2 separate regions of the Homo sapiens genome follow, and region 1 is linked to region 2. The links come from fine-mapping of genetic effects on plasma protein levels. A gene starts in region 2. The other region holds a variant in brackets. All regions are shown on one strand. Distances are from middle to middle. Region 1 holds the start of CCDC33-AS1 (CCDC33 antisense RNA 1). Region 2 holds the start of ISLR2 (immunoglobulin superfamily containing leucine rich repeat 2).

The links. A credible set is the group of variants that fine-mapping cannot tell apart. PIP is the chance, under the fine-mapping model, that this variant and not a neighbour inherited with it causes the effect. Protein levels are from the aptamer-based SomaScan assay of Sun 2018.
Region 1: its variant is the best candidate, but not a certain one, in a credible set for the plasma level of the ISLR2 protein (Sun 2018, PIP 0.59).

What each region holds. Positions count from the first base shown.
Region 1 is chr15:74,313,582-74,322,193 of GRCh38, reverse strand. All of the region lies in intron 11 of CCDC33 (coiled-coil domain containing 33), which reads right to left. CCDC33-AS1 (CCDC33 antisense RNA 1) reads left to right here and starts at 2,502. Exons shown (of 2, transcript XR_007064711.1): 1 at 2,502-2,674. RefSeq lists enhancers at 2,158-3,068, 6,302-6,401. The variant T/A (reference allele first, on the strand shown) is at 4,256.
Region 2 is chr15:74,123,009-74,131,499 of GRCh38, reverse strand. ISLR2 (immunoglobulin superfamily containing leucine rich repeat 2) reads right to left here and starts at 914. Exons shown (of 3, transcript NM_020851.3): 1 at 879-914; 2 at 184-293. It overlaps LOC283731 (a long non-coding RNA gene), which reads left to right and starts at 2,222. Exons shown (of 3, transcript NR_152622.1): 1 at 2,222-2,535; 2 at 2,876-3,484; 3 at 3,767-5,127. RefSeq lists a silencer at 98-297 and enhancers at 1-698, 699-1,608, 8,291-8,491.

The DNA.
Region 1 (8,612 bases), 190 kb before region 2:
TGATAACATTTTGGGGTAGTTTGTTATTGCAATAGGTAACTGGAACATCCTCTCTGGCCTCCAGACCCCTCCAATGACTCCCACTGGCCCTCATGGTAAATTTCCAACTTTGAATTTCCACCTCTTTCAGCACAGCTAGACCCCCTTTCAGAATTTAGCCCTGGCCACTCCACCCATGGGCCCAGCCTTCTGGGCCCCTATCTTCAAAGCCTTCCCTACCTCTGCCCAGAAGCTGTTTCTCGCCTACACCAGCCTGGCACTCCTCATCTGCCAAGGGCCACGCACATGCTCCCCCTTCAGCTCCTAAAGACCTTGATGGCAGGGAAGGGCCTCCCTGCCTCCCTGACTTACTCAGGCAAATCCTTTGACCCAGACCCTGCTCCTGCCAGATTTGCCAAACAGAACTCCTGTAGGTGTCCTTTGAATGTCAGAGAGGTCTCTCTTGGCTAATCTAAATTTCCCAATACTTTTAAAGGGAATTAACCACATTTCTTGGCCCGGTGCGGTGGTTCACGCCTGTAATCCCAGCACTTTGGGAGCCGAGGGGGGCGGATCACTCACGGTCAGGAGTTCAAGACCAGCCTAGCCAACACAGTGAAACCCCCTCTCTACTAAAAATACAAAAAGTACACCGGGCACAGTGGCTCATGCCTGTAATCTCAGCACTTTGGGAGGCTAAGGGAGGTGGATCACCTGAGGTCAGCAGTTTGAGACCAGCCTGGCCAACATGGTGAAACCCCATCTCTACTAAAAATACAAAAATTAGCCAGGCATGGTGGTGGATGCCTGTAATCCCAGCTACTTGGGAGGATGAGGTGGGAGAATCGCTTGAACTGGGGGGCAGGCGGGGGTGGGGCGGAGGTTGCACTGAGCTGAGATCGTGCCTCTGAACTCCAGCCTGGGCAACAGAGCAAGACTCCATCTCAAAAATAAATAAATAAATAAAATAAGATAAAATAAAATAAAGCGAATTAACCACATTTCTTTAAAATACAATGGAAAATTCAGCTGGCAAATTGATGCTGGCCTCCTCCAGTTCCAGAGACCAGGGAGCAAAAGCCCAGTTCTGAGGGGCCGTCTCAGGGACAAGTCGGGGAGGATGGAGGTTGTGCCTGAAAATTTGCTGAAAGGGACTAGTGTTTTCCCAGGGGTTGGGGCTCACCATGGCTAAGAAGTCCCCTTACTCCCAGAAACACACGGGCCAATGCCACTGGGACCCTGGCCTCTCAGTTCTTTGCCACTGCCCACCCAGCCAAGCTCCCTTCCCAGCCACTGAAGGACAATAGAACCCACTGGCCATGAGGACAAGCTTCTTTCTTTCCCTCCATTCACTCTGGAACCTCATCACCACCAGAGGGCAGGCGAGGGAGGACTGAGAGCCTCATTGGCTGGGTGGGATATCGAAGCGGCAAGGGCATAGCCCAGTGGGAGAGGCTGCGCTCCTGAGACACAGAGGGCAGGGTTAGGGAGGTGAGGGCAGGGTGGTCTGTGCGATGTGGCATTGCCCTGGGGGTGGGAGCCTGGAGGAGGCAATGGCACTGGTGGGTCCCCTTCTCCACCTGTCACCACCCCAGGGTGGCCCCAGCTTCCCAAACCCCATTTTGGACTCTGGCATATATCTCCCTTCCACCTGCTCCCCAGCAGGGCCTGGCAGCTGCTGTTTGTACCCCTAAGCTCAGCTCTGTTGGGGGTGGGGAGACCCTGCACTCAGAGAGTTCCCGGTGGGAGGCAGGCCTTGTGTGGGACATGGCTCACACCCTAGGAGTGCAAGTCAAGGCCAGGGGTAGGGTTGGGGAGGGGATCCTGCAGGGGAGGGGTGGAGCTGGGCCTTTGAGGTGCAGGTGAGATTTGACTGGATTGGGTGGGACTTCAGAGGTGGGGAACACTGAGGGAAGGTGTGGAGGCCCATGTGGGCTGGGCTCTTTGGAGGCAGCAAAGTACACAGGTCTGTCTGGCTAGAGAGCTGGAGCAGGCCCACCTGTTTGCACCAGCCAGGCCCGGAAGCTCTGCTTCTGAACAGAGCGCAGTGGGGAGTCACAGGAGTTTCTAGAACCAGGGCCCTGCTCACCCCAGGTCTCTGCTCCTGGTTCCCCTCGAATGTCATCTGGGCCTCCCAACCACAACAAATCTGTGCAAATTGCTGTTTAAAACAGACTTCCTGCTCCACAGAAGCTGCCCTCCCAGGGAGGGGAGGCAGTTGCTTCTTTGTTCAGCCCAAGGTTATGGCAAAGAAACAAAAGGAGTGAATTTTCCCTTTCTTCTGTTCTTTCTTTCCCTTCCTGCTGCAGCAGAGATGATGCCTAGAAAGCTTTTGTGCTTGGCTTGGTGAAGCTTGGAGGGGTGGCAGGGCCTTGGCCGGCAGCTGACCTCAGCCCCTGTCTAATTGGCCCCTGCAGGAGCCAGGTGCTAATTGGGCCTGGCTGGGACAATGGAGACCGGCTGGGCTGGGGTGGGGGCGGGGCTTCCTGGAAGATGCTGGCTTCCCATTCCTACTTCCCCTCCTAGGCTTTTCTGAACGCTGCCTGACCCTCAAGGCTCCATTCTGGGCCCTCCTCCTCCAGGAAGACCCCCGGGCTATCCCAAGACAGGCCATCAGTCATGACTCCTTGGGTATTGGGCCAGAGTCCAGCCTCTGCTGACAGCAGATTGGGGCCAGCCCTTGCTCTCAGCCCAGGTGAGTACAGGGCTGGGCATTCAGCAGGTGGTGAGGGGCAGGCCCCAGTCCTGGTCTCACAGGCCCTGTTCACTCTTCCTCAAAGAACCCTTCCCCACTGGTCACCTCCTGCCAGAATCCTCCCTGGTTAGAGCTTTGCTGCCTCAGGAATGCCCCACATTGGGTGGGGGAAGAGCCCTGGCTGGAACCCAGAACCTTGGGTTCTGATCCAGCCTCTGCCCACAGCTGTCGAACGACCCGAAGCGAGGCCCTTGCCCACTCCGTGCCTGCTCATCTGCACCCTGTGGGGAATGACCCTTGTTGGGGTTGTCCTCTGGGATTCTTGCCAAAGGGGAAGAAGAAATGCTTTGGCAACTGGGGCCCAAACCAGAAGGGTTAGCACTTACTGGGGCGGCCCCAGCCCCCAGTCTGAGCTGCTGCTTCCACTGGATGCCCCATCTGCCACACCCACTCCTCCTCACAGCTCGGCACCACACATGCACTACCAGCAAGCCTTCCCAGGCTAGCCCAGGCTCAGCCACTTTCTAGGATCCAAGGCTGGACCTCCAAGACACCAGAGGTAGGGCCCAGACTAGCAGGAGGCAATGATCACTTCAAGGGATTTTCCCAGAAGCCCTTCTGTCCTCCCTCTCTGGATTACTGTGTGGGCTCAGGTGGCCTAGGCTGGAGCCAGGGGCCTTGCAAAAGATTCCTGTGACCACGGGCATCTAAGGGCCAAAGCCCTGGTCCTCTCCACCCTGCCTCCCACTTAAGAGGCTCTGGGAACACCTCTACTGGTTGCTGGGCAACACACCCCAACACACCTGCTGCTAGGCGAGCCAACCCATCTTCCCAGAACCAGTGGGCGAGGGGGCGACTTACAGAGAAGCTGTCAATGAGGCCTGGGGCAGCCTTGGGGGCTGGAGGGGATGGGGGCCCTGGCTCCCCCATCTTTACTGCTAGCAGTCCTGTTCCCCAGGATGGGTCCCCAGGGACTGTTGCTACAACAAGTGCCTGCCTGGTGACCAAGCCCAGCCCTGAGCTGGAAGCAGGCAGGCCCATGGGGCCACTTCCCCTTTGTTCCAGGGTGGGGGGTGTCTGGGTGGGGTGGCTGAAATCATGCAAGGTTCACTCCTTGGCCACAGAATTGTATGGAGACAGCAGGGCCGGGGAGGGCTGTGGGGCCCTTCAGGGCTCCGGCCTTCTGACTCCCCTGGCCCAGGCTCAGAGTCCCTCCTCCCTCACCTGCCCTTGGCTACACCTTGGTTCCTGCCTCCCCCTCAACTCCCTCCGCTCTTCTCCACTTTCTCTGCCTCCTGGTTACCCCCATACCCTGTCTCCCCTTTCTCTCCCACTGAGCCTCACCCTCTGTCCCTGAGTCTCCTCCTCCCCCTCCCCCTTAGTCTCTCTGCTCCCTGATTCCCCCTTGTCCCCTCAGGAGTCCTCCCCACCCCGCAGCAGCACAAGCTGGGCTCACTCTCCTCCCTGCAGCTGCAGTGTGGCTTAGGGCCCCACGCCTGGTCCCTGGGGACTTCCTCTGGCTGCTTTCCTGATGCTCTGGACAAATTCCTTTCTCTTTAGTTCAGCGGAGACATGGGTGGA[T/A]GTTTTTGAAAGAAACTCACTGGGAAGCAAAAAAAAAAAAAAAAAAAAAAACAAACCCAAACAAGCCAGCCCGCCACCTAGAAACGGCCCTGGTCATGAAGGCAGAATGTCTGATATAACTGGCTTCAGCCTGGGTTGCGGAGACCCCCTCCTGGGGCATGGAGGGGCCTGCCTGCCTTTCCCCAGCTGAACTGGGTTCAGCCTGTCTGTCCCAGACAAGCTTGGTCCCAAAGGCTTTCATGATAGGGCCCTCCACCTGGACCTAGCAAGATGCTGACCAGCACTGGGACTTCATAAATATTTGTTTACTTGTTTAATGAATGAATAGATGACTTACAGTGTTCTTTGGGGCCTCAATGGTGGCACAATAATAATCCCTGACTGGACAAGCCAAGACAGTCACCTCTACCCGTTTCAAAATCTCCACCCCTGCTGCTGGGTGCCCAGCTCAGCACTCTGCACAGGGTTGGGGGGCCTCTGGCTTCTGCCGGTGTTGTGGAGGGCGCTTCCTTTTCTCATTTGCAGGCCTCATGTTTCACTTACTCTTTTTCTTTTTTCCTTTTTTTGAAATGGAGTCTGGCTCTGTCTCTTGCTCTGTCTCCCAGGCTGGAGTACAGTGGCGCGATCTGGGCTCACTGCAAGCTCCGCCTCCCGGGTTCATGCCATTCTCCTGCCTCAGCCTCCCGAGTAGCTGGGACTACAGGTGCCTGCCACCATGCCTGGCTAATTTCTTGTATTTTTTTAGTAGAGACTGGGTTTCACCGTGTTAGCCAGGATGCTCTCGATCTCCTGACCTCGTGATCCACCTGCCTCAGCCTCCCAAAATGCTGGGATTACAGGCATGAGCCACTGCACCTGGCCCACTCCACTTTTTCTTAATGGGGACACTTCCTCTGAACAATAGGGACAAGTAGGGGAGTGGCACAAGACAATCCCCATACTCCTATTAGTTCTTATTTGAGTGGGCCTGGTGAAGTGGAAAGATAGTGGGCTCTGTTACTAAGCAGCTGTGTGACTTTGGACAGGTCACTTAACCTCTCTAAGCCTGTTTTCTCCTCTGTAAAATGGAGTGCATCACTGTGCCCATCTCATAACGCTGTTGGGGATTAAATGAGGCTGCGAGTGTACACGTCCGAGCAGCGTCTGGCATATAAGAGTGGCTCCAGAAATATTACTCCCTCCTCTGTGCAACTCTCATGAGGGGCTCTGGAGGGTCTAGCACCCCTCCAGGGAAATGAAAGGGAGGCCCGTGGTGGAGTCGGCCATCCTCCCTGGATGGCACCAGTCACTGGCTGGCACTGAGATGTGGGCCTTAAATCTTCCTGCTCCTGCCCCTCAGCCTCCCCACCAGGGAAATGGGTGTGTGCCCCCTGCTATCCCCAAGATCCTGGGGCAAGAAGCCTCCCAGACCAGGCTTCACCACCCCTCCCTGCAAGGGGCCCTGTCCTCCCCTGCCTGCTGTGCGCCAATCGATTGAGTCTGCTCCCATCCTCGGGCGTGCCATGAATTTTTCATCAAAAGCCTGTAGACTTTGGGAAACGCACAATTAGAAGCCCCATCAATAATGCACTACGCAGAGGCATGCACTGAGCTCAGCCTGGCCCCAGACATGGCAGTCTTCCAGCCCTGCTCTGGCGGGAGGCTGGAGGGGCGCCCCAGCGGACCCTCAGGGACCCATCACCGGACATAGAACAAGTGTGGGCTGCTGAGAGGGAGGGAAGCCGCGCCCTTGAGGGACTTGAGCCTGCCCCATGAAGCCAGGGAGGCCCCAGGGGCTCCCGCCTGGTCTCAGGCATTTCATCTATAAAACGGGTGCTCAAGAGCCCCCACCCCTGCCCCTTGCCCACCCCTTATCACTGGGTGAGACACACAAGACAATTACTATGTGAAGACTAGGGCAGGGCTCTTTGTGGAGCTAAGGGATGTCCTCCTTCAGGGGGTCCCAGGAAACAGGGCAGGTGCCTGGCTGGAGTGGGGAGGGAGAGGAGGGCAGTACAGAGATGCCTGGTGGCATTGGGGCTTTATTCACACTTCCTTCCCCCAGCTTGGCGGTCAAGGTCCCTGTGGTCCTGCTCCTGTCCCCCTCCCCCTCCACACTTAATAGTGCAGCTCCCCTTGGACCAGCCACTCCCACGCCAGCCACTTCCTGTGGCCTCAGAACCTCTGGGGGAACAAACAGGTTCAGTGCATCCGGCCTCTGTGCCTTTGCTCACGCAGTTCCCCCACCTACAGGACAGAGTCGCCTTCCCCCATCTCTGCAGATCCATTCTGCAAAGCCCACCTCCTAACAAAAGACTTTCCTACTCTTCTTGGCTTCCTTTCTGAATTTCTAGAGCCTGCACCAGGCAGGTAACAAGAGCTCACCATAGGCTGGGCACTGTTCTAACTACCTTAAATAGATCGGCCTAACTTCACCACCAGTCACCTGATGAAGTAGCCTTCTCCATGTCCATTCCACAGAGGAGGAGAGTGAGGTATGAGGAGGCTAGGGAAGTTCTTGGAGTGGGTGAGCTGGTTCCAGAGTCTTCACCACCACTCCGGACCCTGGGGCTGGCTCTCCTGTCCTCAACTGGCCTTGGCCTTGGAGTCCGCAAGGGCAGGGCTCATGCTTCATCACTCATCAGGGCTGGGATCTCCCTATTGCAGGGCCAGAGGCTCAGCTGAACTCAGGGTGGGGCACGCAGGATGTTGATAGCCATGCTTAGCTGCTGGTAGGAGAGGCCTCCCCGCAACTCGAGCTTGAAGCTGGCCTAGCCAGAAGGTCCAGATGCCTCCCTGGTCCCCTGCAACGGCCTCCACTGAGCCCACATCCCATCTCCTGGAGTCGCACAGTTGCTCTGCTCCCCTTACCCCTGCTGGCTCCAGGTCTGGCTCATACATTCTGAGGCTGTCATGAATGCCCTCACTGCCCGCAATAAAACCACCGCATCAGACACACGGGGGTGGGGGATGGGAGGCTCCTGGGCTGAGGTGGTTTTTGCTGTTGCTTTTGGCAGGCTGTCAGACTTCTCTGGGCCCTGCCTGGCTGTGGGCTTCTGCTGCAGCCTAGGAGGGGGCTCGTTGGCACCTGGGGTTCTGTGCCCCTGCACATGGGCCATGTGAGAGCAGAGATGCCAGCTCCCGGAGGCGGGACATGTGCTGAGGGAACACAGCCCTCCATTTCCATTTCTAAAACTCTCTCCTGGCAGGAATGCTGCTGGGCCTGAAATACAAATGGAACTGTACCCCTCCTAACCCCCAAATCCCCACCCCAGGTGCTCCACCACAGCTTGGAGCTGTCTGCAGGAAAGGGCTCGTCATGATGCCAGTGATGTTCACAGAGGGGCCCTGGGATGGGTCCAGACTAGGGGGCTGGCAGGGGGAGGGTGGGCAGAGAGCTTGGTTAAAGCCCCCTGCTCTGTGCCCCCCACCCCTGAAATGTGTGTTTGCATTTTGCCCTAACTGAATCCACTGTCTGCCTTGAGGTCGCCATGACCCTATAAGTGGGCAGCCAGGGTGGCAAGAGTGTGTCTCCTTCCATCTCTAGGGGAGGGGTGAGCACTGCCTTTCCCCCACCCAGGCCAAGGACTGAGGTCCTCCCAGTTCAGGATATACTCTTTGGCAGGCCCACTTGGCCAGGCCCTGTGGTGGGCACTGGAGACACAGATGTGGCCAAGGCTTGGGGTCTCTGTCCCCAAGTAGCTTGTATTCTAGTCGATGTGAGAGCAGGCAGTGTGGCATAGTAAATCAGTATGGCAAATGCAGTAGCGGGGGAGCCCCCCAGCCAGCCCCCTCCTCACCCTGGGGTGCAGGCAAGGGTGTATTGGAGGGTATGTCAGAGCGGGAGATGGGTTTTGAAGGATGAGTAGGAGTTTGTCAGGTGATACAGGCATAAGGAGGAGACACAGTCCTAGCACAGGGAACAGCAGGAGCACAGGTGTGGAGGTGAGCAGCAGCCTGGAACACCGTGGGAGTGCAGACAGGACACGCGGCAAGGAGGGGCTGGTAGGAGATGAGACTGGAGCGGCTGCAGGGTTCAGTCATGGGACCTTGGATGTAAGTCCAAGGCCCAGCTGTCAAGCCTGTTATAGGCAGGCAAAGTGGACTGGGCTGGGCCTGGATGCTGGCACCAAGCATGCTTGTGACCCTCCCAGAATAAGGTCTGGTTGCATTCTAAACAAATCCAATGTGCTATGCAGGACCCAGAGCCCAGACAGGGTAAGAAGTTGCCTAGCACTTCTGTGGCAGGGCCAGCTCAGCATTCATAGCCCTCCGGGGTTAGAAATCTGTGCTGGGCTAATCACCTGAGGTCAGGTGTTCGAGACCATCCTGGCCAATATGGCGAAACCCCGTCTCTACCAAAAACATAAAAATTAGC
Region 2 (8,491 bases):
TCCCACAACTTGTCTTTGGGAACCTGCTCCTTCACTCTGCCTTTGCTCTTCTGGGAGGGTCCCTTCCCTCCCTTCCCGGTTCCTGCCAGACAGCACCCCCACCAGCCCCGCACCCCATCAGGTGCCCTAGGCTGGACCTAACCCCACCTGGGTCAAGGTTGTGGGGTGGCCCCCATTGCTTACCCAATATTCGCCGACTCTCAGTAAATGTCCTGGGGCTGAAACCCCTTCTCCAGACCCGGCGTGGCAGAGCAGGGAAGATAGCCCAAGCAAGATACACGCATGTGTTGTGGCTGTGGGGAAAACGGGGGGCGGGGGGCAAAGAAAGGGACAGGTAAGTTTGGGGACTTGGTGGCCCCAAAGTACCACTTCAATTTTTCCTTTTGCGTCCGTTTCCCCCACCTCTCTGGCTGCAGGTTGGAGAAAGTCCTTGCGCACTCCCGGGCCTGGCGGGGACGCGCATAGCCTCTCCCGCCTCCTGCTTGGTCTACTTTTGTTAAAGCCACGGAGACCCTCCCCAAGGCCAAGACACGTCGGTCATAAGGGGCATCCCACGCCCACTGTCCTGGCTGGGCTCTTCGCAGCCTACTGCACCCCCATAACCCACGTACCCCCACATTTACACAGCCGCTGGCATTGTTACTGTCCCTGATCACACCACCTCCCCCACCCCACGTTCAAACACATTCGCGCACACAGTCCCTCACACCCTCCCCATAGCCGACCTTCACAGTTTACAATCATCCATGGTCAGGTAATAATCGCATCAATGTGTTCAGCCCCTGCTACATTCACACGCATTTTCACGGGCACACCTGCACCCGGGACACTTACCGTTCTCCTCTCGCACACGCATACACACATTCACGCGAACTCACCCTCACGCGCCTGTCCCGCCAGCGCCCGCGAGCTTCGCTGCTAATTGAATGCAAGCCGCTTTTACGCCCTGCAACACGTGAGACAAACCATCTTTGAGGAATTTGGGGGAAGGAAAGGCGCGCGGCTGAAGTGGGGGGGGAAGGCGTGTCTTTGCCTTTAAACTCTTTTTGCAAATGCAGGCGGTGGCACCGACAGACTTCGAGCGGGACCCGCTGAGCTGCGCGCAGCCGAGCTCGCGCGGACCCTTCCCTCCCGCACCCCCCGCTGCTAGCCGCCTCCTCCCCGAAGCCACGTTCAACATGATGCATAATTGATAGTGTTAGCAGAGCGCCGCACCCTCCCTACCATTTTTGCCTGGATCTGGGCTGATATAAGCCCTAGTCTCCCCCGCCCCGCCGCCCCAACCCCCCCGCCCCGCCTGCTAGTCTAACCCGACACCAGAACGCACAGCCCTGCAGGGCGTGCTGGGAAGGGACACCCCCCTCCCCAGCCCACCGCAGCCCTGCCCAGCCTCTTAAGCCGGAACTCTTTACTTCTGGTCTTTTGTGGCTAAACCAGCGCTTGAAGCCCACTGCCCGACGCGTTGGCCTGCGCGCACCGCGGGACAGGTGGAGCAGGGGGAAGCTCTCTCGAGCGCACCCAAGCACCTCACTCCAGGTCTTGCCTGCTCCAGGAGAACGGGGCACGGAAGCTGCAGCAGACAGTAGCACAGACAAGGATGGTGGCAAAACGTCCGCTACTCTTGAGCACGGTGGGCTGGGGACTTCAGGCCCGAGCATTTCTCCCATATCTGCCCCCCATATCTTCACAGCCTCTCAAGCAGACACACGGTCAACCCCACACGCACTATCCCCCAAGCCGCGGTGGCCCCTCACCGCCCCGCCGTCTCACACCCTCACACAACAGCCGGCTTCGGCAGACTCGCTGTTCCCGACTGTCGCTCCCTAGCTCTGATGAAACCCCGACATTTCTTTCAGCGACGAGGAGGCGGAGGCGCGGCGATGTCGAGGCATTTGGCTAAAACCCGGTTTCCGCCCCCCTGCGCTGCCCACGTTAGCCCTGGAGACAGCTACCGGCCATAACCAGGAAAGGGGTTCAGGCTCCGGGAGACACGCAGAATCCCCACCCATTCTGTAGCCACTGAGCTCTCTGGGAGCACCAAGCCCCACAGCCATCACCCCGGGCCATGGGGGTCTCTCGATGGCGAGGGTTTGGGGCTTCCGTGGAGATCAATACCCCGATTTGAGTGTTGAGCATCTTAATGAGCTAGGGGAGGGGGTGGGGAAGAGAGACAGGCTAAGAGCGCAGCGTCTAAAGAGACCACCCGGCCCGGGGTTCCGAGGCTGCTTTGTAAATTAAATATGAACAGACTGGTGCGCTCACACTCCAAGCGTCCCTCCCTCTCCCCTACTCCTGCCGTCGCTACGGGCGGCCCAGCGGGCTGAGACCATCGCATCTTGCTCAGCCCCAGTTCAGAACACAGAACTTCACACCGCCTGCTCGGGCCTGGAGTCCCCCCCCGCCGACCCATGGGGAGGGCGCAAGGCGCCTTTCAGGGAAGGTGTCTTCGAAAATGGTCGAGGGGTGAGAGCACTGTGACCCGTCCCTGCCGGGGATCCTGTGGTGGGACAGCCAGGATTGGGTCCCTAGCCCGGGGTGAGTCCCTGAGGTTTCTAGGCCTTGTGGGGTCGGGAGAAGGAGGCAGACGGCGGGGCCAGCACACCCTTCTTTGTCTGCCGAACAAGGTGGGGGTGGGGGCGGGGAGCGGCGTCTTGGGCAGTTGTCCGGGTGTTGGGAACCCTGAGGGGGCGGTCTTGGGAGCCTGTGCCTGGGAAGGATATTTGGAGGCAGGGGCCCAGCAGCGGGAGCTGAGTCCGGTCCGGCATGGCGTGTCCAGGGGACTTTTCGGGACTGAGTGAGGGGCGCCAGGCGGGGAGGCTCAAGGCCCTCCGCCGGTTTTTACCTATTTTCTTTCTTTCTTTTTTGCCTTCCGCAGGGAGGCAGAATCTGGGTAATGGAAGGGAGAATGGGCTCGCTATCTGCCCAGAGCTTCCCTGGACTGCAGGAACCCGTCCTATAAGCAACCCCGAAACTTCGGGGCCCGAGGACCAGGGAAGACCCCCTTTCCTTGCTGTCTTGACAGGGTTGCAGAAGCCAAGGAGTTCGGCAGGGAGACGGGGCTCCTGGGGTGGTTAAGGACGCGGTGACCACCCCTGGGCGGGAGCTGACTCCCGCGGGCCCGGAGGCTCTAGCTCACTCTACAGCAAATGCTTTTGTTCCCGGAGGCTGCCCTGGGGGAAAGACGCCCCTTACCCCTGCCTTCGACCCTGGAGAGCCCAGTGCCCGCCCGGGCAGGGCTGGAGCCCGAGTCGCCCCAGGCAGAGTCCGCCGAGGCCTGGGGTGGGAGCCGCGACTTCTGGATCTGCCTCCGAGCTCAGCTAGAAGACTGCGCGCACCTCGTCCGGCGCCGTCCGGCGCGCAGAAGCGGGTCTAATGTTTATAACGTTAATAATGACAGTTAGGGAGGGCTGTGGAGCCGGGAACCAAGACCTCATCCCGCCGCCGCCCACGTCTTTGATCATTAAAGAAACAGACAACTAATCAGGTGTGTGGAAGTAGGGGTGGGGGAGGGGAGGGTGACAAGGTTCCAAGCCGCTAGCGCAGAGGGTCCCAGATTCAGAATCTGCCGAATCCAGACTAAGGCTTCTAACCAGGCTGGAGCCGACCCCAGACAGACCCAGGAATGGAGAGCTGGAGCCCCTGGCCGCTTTCTGCGGATCGACCCTTAACTTCAACGTCGCGAACCCGGAGCGTCGGGAGGGTGGGGAGGGTTGAAACCGGTTGGATCTGGGGACTTGCTCCAGCGACTCCATCCGCGCTGTTCTAGGGCCCAAGCCTGGTCCGCGCGCGCCCCCTGCTGGAAGCCGCTTGCCGGGCGCAGAGGCGGGTCAACGGCAGAGGGTGCTGGCTGGGCGAGGAAGATGTGGCTGGAACCCTGCACCAAGGCGACCGCTGCTCACGGCTCTGCAGTCCCGCGGCGCGATACGCCAGTGGGGCGCGCTTAACCAAAGTCCCGAGGCTTTACTTCCCGTGCCCACCCAGTCTATGTCCCAGGTATCAGCAACCTCTGGTCCACTACACAACACAGGCGCTGTCCCTACTTCGCGCTGCGTAGTTTCCAGTGCCCAGGGCGTCTCCTAATTCTTGAGCGACTAGTCCCTGGCACAAAACCTTCCTATACACCTCTCCCACTCTCCCTTCTCTCTGAGTCTTATGACTTTGTCAGGGGCCTATTAAAATAAATGTCTGAGATCTGGAAAAAAAAATCTGTTGGCGCTAACAGGGGCAAAGAAAACTGCAAAATTGGAAGTAATCGATGTTTGATTGAATGTTTAAGACATGCGACATTGTGCAAACGATTCTGTTGCAACTGCACTCAGAGTTGTACTTGCCCTTGTATTTTAATGTGGCACGCGGAGGATTTAATGGACTTGCCTAAAGATGTGGGAAGGGCCTCTGAGAATAAGAAAGCCGGGGCCCAGATGGGCATCAAACATCCCCAGCATAGCAGCCGGTTAAGGCTGCGGAGACCTTCCCCAAGGCTGCCCTCCAGTCAGAAGCCCCTGAACACTCACTACTTCCCATCTTTCAGCTTCTGCGCGCACAGACACACACACACACACACACACACACACACACACACACACACACACACACACACACAAATGTTCTCTCCAGCCCCACACCCTCAAGAAGCTGCTTTCCTTTTCTAATTTCCAGTCGAAAGATCACTCCTCAGGGAAGCCAGGCCCTGTTTATACTCCCTCCTCCGGCCTTTCCTTGTACAGGTTCTATGTAGTCGTCAGGCGGGCAGGTCCTAGCGTCAGACTCCATTATGTACTGACTGTGTGTCCTTAGCCAAGCTATTTAACCTCTCTGTGCCTCAAGAAAAAAAGGCATAAATAAGAGTACTGACCAGGCGCGGTGGCTCACACCTGTAATAATCCCAGCACTTTGGGAGGCCCAGGCGGGCGGATCACAAGGTCAGGAGTTCGAGACCAGCCTGACCAACATGGTGAAACCTCGTCTCTGCTAAAAATACAAAAATTAGCCGGGCGTGGTGGTGCATGCCTGTAATCCCAGCTACTCAGGAGGCTGAGGCAGGAGAATCTCGGGAGGCAGAGGTTGCAGTGAGCCGAGATAGTGCCACTGCATTCCGGCCTGGGCGACAGAGCGAGACTCTGTCTCAAAAAAAAAAAAAAAAAAAAAAAAATACCTATGCTTTTCGGTCACCTTGAGGATTAAATGAATCAATGTACGCAAAGCACTTAGTACCTGACACTTAGTGCTCAGTACTTGAGATACGTTTTTTATATAATAGCTGAATTAGCCATTATTATTGCCTTGCAGAGTGGGACACAAGTTTGATAAAAGGTTCTGCTGCACACACCCCTACAGGCTTGTGTCCTGCCTCCTCCACAGGGGAGCACCTTGGCTCTGCCCCCAGACCTCTTCACCACCACCACCCCCTTTGCACACACACACACCATGGGTATATGTAGAAACCAGATTTACTATTATTATTTGTAAAGGTTTCTAGTTTCAGATACTTAGACTGATGCTTGTCAGCATGCCTGTTTGCAAAGAGAGACCCGCAACTGCAGACTTGGTGGAAGGTTTTTAATTAAAACTACATTCTGTTTAAGTATTTATTGGACTTTGTGACTTTAATTATTTTCTAGGGAAAAACAAAAAAATCCACATTTGCCTATGAGAAGACTGTTGATTTCAGAGGAAAGTAGCAACCTGTTGCAGTTTGCTGGAGGCAACTGAGAGGAATTTTCTGAATGGTTCAAATGAAGCTCGACATTATTAATAATCTGGGATCCAGCCCATGACCCTCCTCCCAGCATTTTCATGAAATTAGCTTAACGTACTGGCAAGGCCTTTTATTGCCATCAAAATTAACAGCAGCTCTTCCAGTGGCAGCTCATGTAATTATCTGGGTCTGTGCTTGTCTCACTGAATAAGAGGAACTCCTGCCTGGAAGAGGCGATACTCCTGCATTCAAAGGGGAACATGGCTGAGCAAGATGGCTCATGCCTGTAATCCCAGCACTTTGGGATGCCAAGATAGAAGGAATATTTGAGCCCAGGAGTTTAAGACCAGCTTGGGCAACATAGTCAGACCTCATCTCTACATTTTTTTTAAATTAGTTGGGCGTGGTGGCACACAACTGTGGTCCCAGCTACTCTGGAGGGAGACTGAGACCAGAGGATCGCTTGAGCCCAGGAGGTCGAGGCAGCCATAAGCCATGATCACACCACTGCACTCCAGCCTGGGCAACAGAGTGAGACTCTGTCTCAAAACAAAAACAAAAACGAAAACAAAAAACAAAACAAAAAAACACCAAAAAACAAGTAAGGGGGGCGGGATGCAAAATGCTTGGCAATCCCACCCCAATTCAGGCAGGACTGGTTTCCCCAAGAGATTTTCTGAGGCAGCCAGCTCCTCCGTGGCAGGACTTGCCATGGTAAAGGGTAGGGCCGGGTGAGGCAGGGGAGTGGGGGCTGGGGATGATGTGTAATATTTCCATCGGCAAATAACAAGATTCCCACCCCCAAGGATGGAAAGTATTAAGTGTATCGTCTCACAAAGCAGGAAGCAAGGCTGGCTTCCCGGCTGTTGATTCAGCGGCTCAGTGACATCAGCAGTTGCAAGTTCTTTCATCTCTCCCCTCTGCCACCCTTAATAGGGCTTCCAGCCCAAGGACTGGGTCCCTTGGTGCCTTGGTGTCACTGGAGGGCTTCCGGAGCCACCAAGGAAACATACCTATTGTGTTTTTTGTTTTTTTTTCTTTTTAGATGGAGTCTCACTCTTGTTACTCAGGCTGAAGTGCGGTGGCACAATTTTGGCTCACTGCAACCTCCACTTCCTGGGTTCAAGTGATTCTCCTGCCTCGGCCTCCCGAGTTGCTTGGATTACAGGTGCGTGCCACCACACCCCGCTAGTTTTTGTATTTTTAGTAGAGACAGGGTTTCACCATGTTGGCTAGGCTGGTCTCAAACTCTTGACCTCAAGTGATCCTTCCGCCTCAGCCTCCCAAAGTGCTGAAAATTACAGGTGTAAGCCACTGTGCCCAGCCACAAACGTAATGTTAACAGACTAGTGGGTTAGAAAGACAGGCTTCTCTTTTCCGAAGCCACAGCCTCTCCCCTGGGTCTTGACACCTATTGTCATAGGACTGTTTATCTCTGAACCAGTCACTGGTGAAGGGGATGAAACTGATTGGTTCAGAATAATTATCTGGCCCTGATATGGCTATAGAGGAGTCAATCCCAAGGCTCACTACAAGCAAGAAATCCCTTTTAAATAGAAGGATTGGGGAATTGCATGTTCAGAGTAGCCTAATATTGTATCAAAATGAATTGAAATGAGAATGACCAGGATTATAATGGACCATACTAGATACTTCCTTATCTGGAGTTTAGACCAATCTATATCCACAGTCTGAGATCACAGTCAGGGTCAGGGCAGTGTGTGTGACCAACTTCAGGAAACTCTGGTAGGCATACAAACCAGAGGATTCTTTGCTTTCACAGAATTCTTGGATCGATTGATTTATTTTTATACTTATTTATTTATTTGGGCTGAGGATCAAACTGTATTGTCCAGCTGGCCTCAAATCCTGGGCTCAAGTGATCCTCCTGCCTCATCCTCCCAAGTAGCTGTGCCTAGAGGCACACATCGCACCCAGCTCTTTCACGGAATTCTTGAAAGGATAAAAATCTGTTCTTGGAAATGCCTGTGCTGGGATCCAAAGCTATTTTGGGAGCAGTGGAAGCTTCAGTCTTTAGTCGGATATTTATGAACAGGAGATGTTTATGAACTCAAAGATGTCCCTATATGACTTCACATCCTGAACATGTCTCCCAGTCCCATGGCAGAGAAGAGAGGCACTTTTACTGTTGAGGTGGAAAACAGGAGGAATAATTCTACCTTGGTCTTAGGAAAAATGTGGGGCAGTGCAAAGTGGGGCAGACCACACTGGGCTTGGAGCTCCACAACCTGAAAGCTCACTCCAGCTTCACAAACTCTCTAAGTGGTCTTAAGCAACTCCTTGCCCTCTCTCCTTCTAGGTTTCCACCCATGCAATGGTAGGGGAATGGGCTAGATGTGTGTCTTGAGGCCCTTGGGTGCTGTGGCCTTAGAAGAAGCCAGTTTGCAGGTTGAGTTGGGGCTTTTGGGCCGCAGGCTGCCATCTGACAGGGCTTCCTGCAGGAAGACACCCTCCTTGGGAGCCTGGGGTTGTGGCTTCCTCTCTTCCTCATGGCCCTTGGCAATTTCTGTGTCTCCCCTCCCATCACACTGCAACCCGCCTCCCGCCTCATCTCTTGAGGCCCGCTTGGGTCCCAGGAGCTAGCCCCTCCCCCAAACTGCTGTGCACTGCTCTGTGGGCAGAGGGAGTCTTCCTGCTTCAAAACACTTACCAAAGGCTCTTTCCATAGCAAGATTCAGGGGCGGTTGGGGCACTGCTATTTGAGGTTAAAATCTGATCACTGAATATTTTGGGAGCCTGGCACATTGACCAGGAAAGAACAAGGCTGCCACC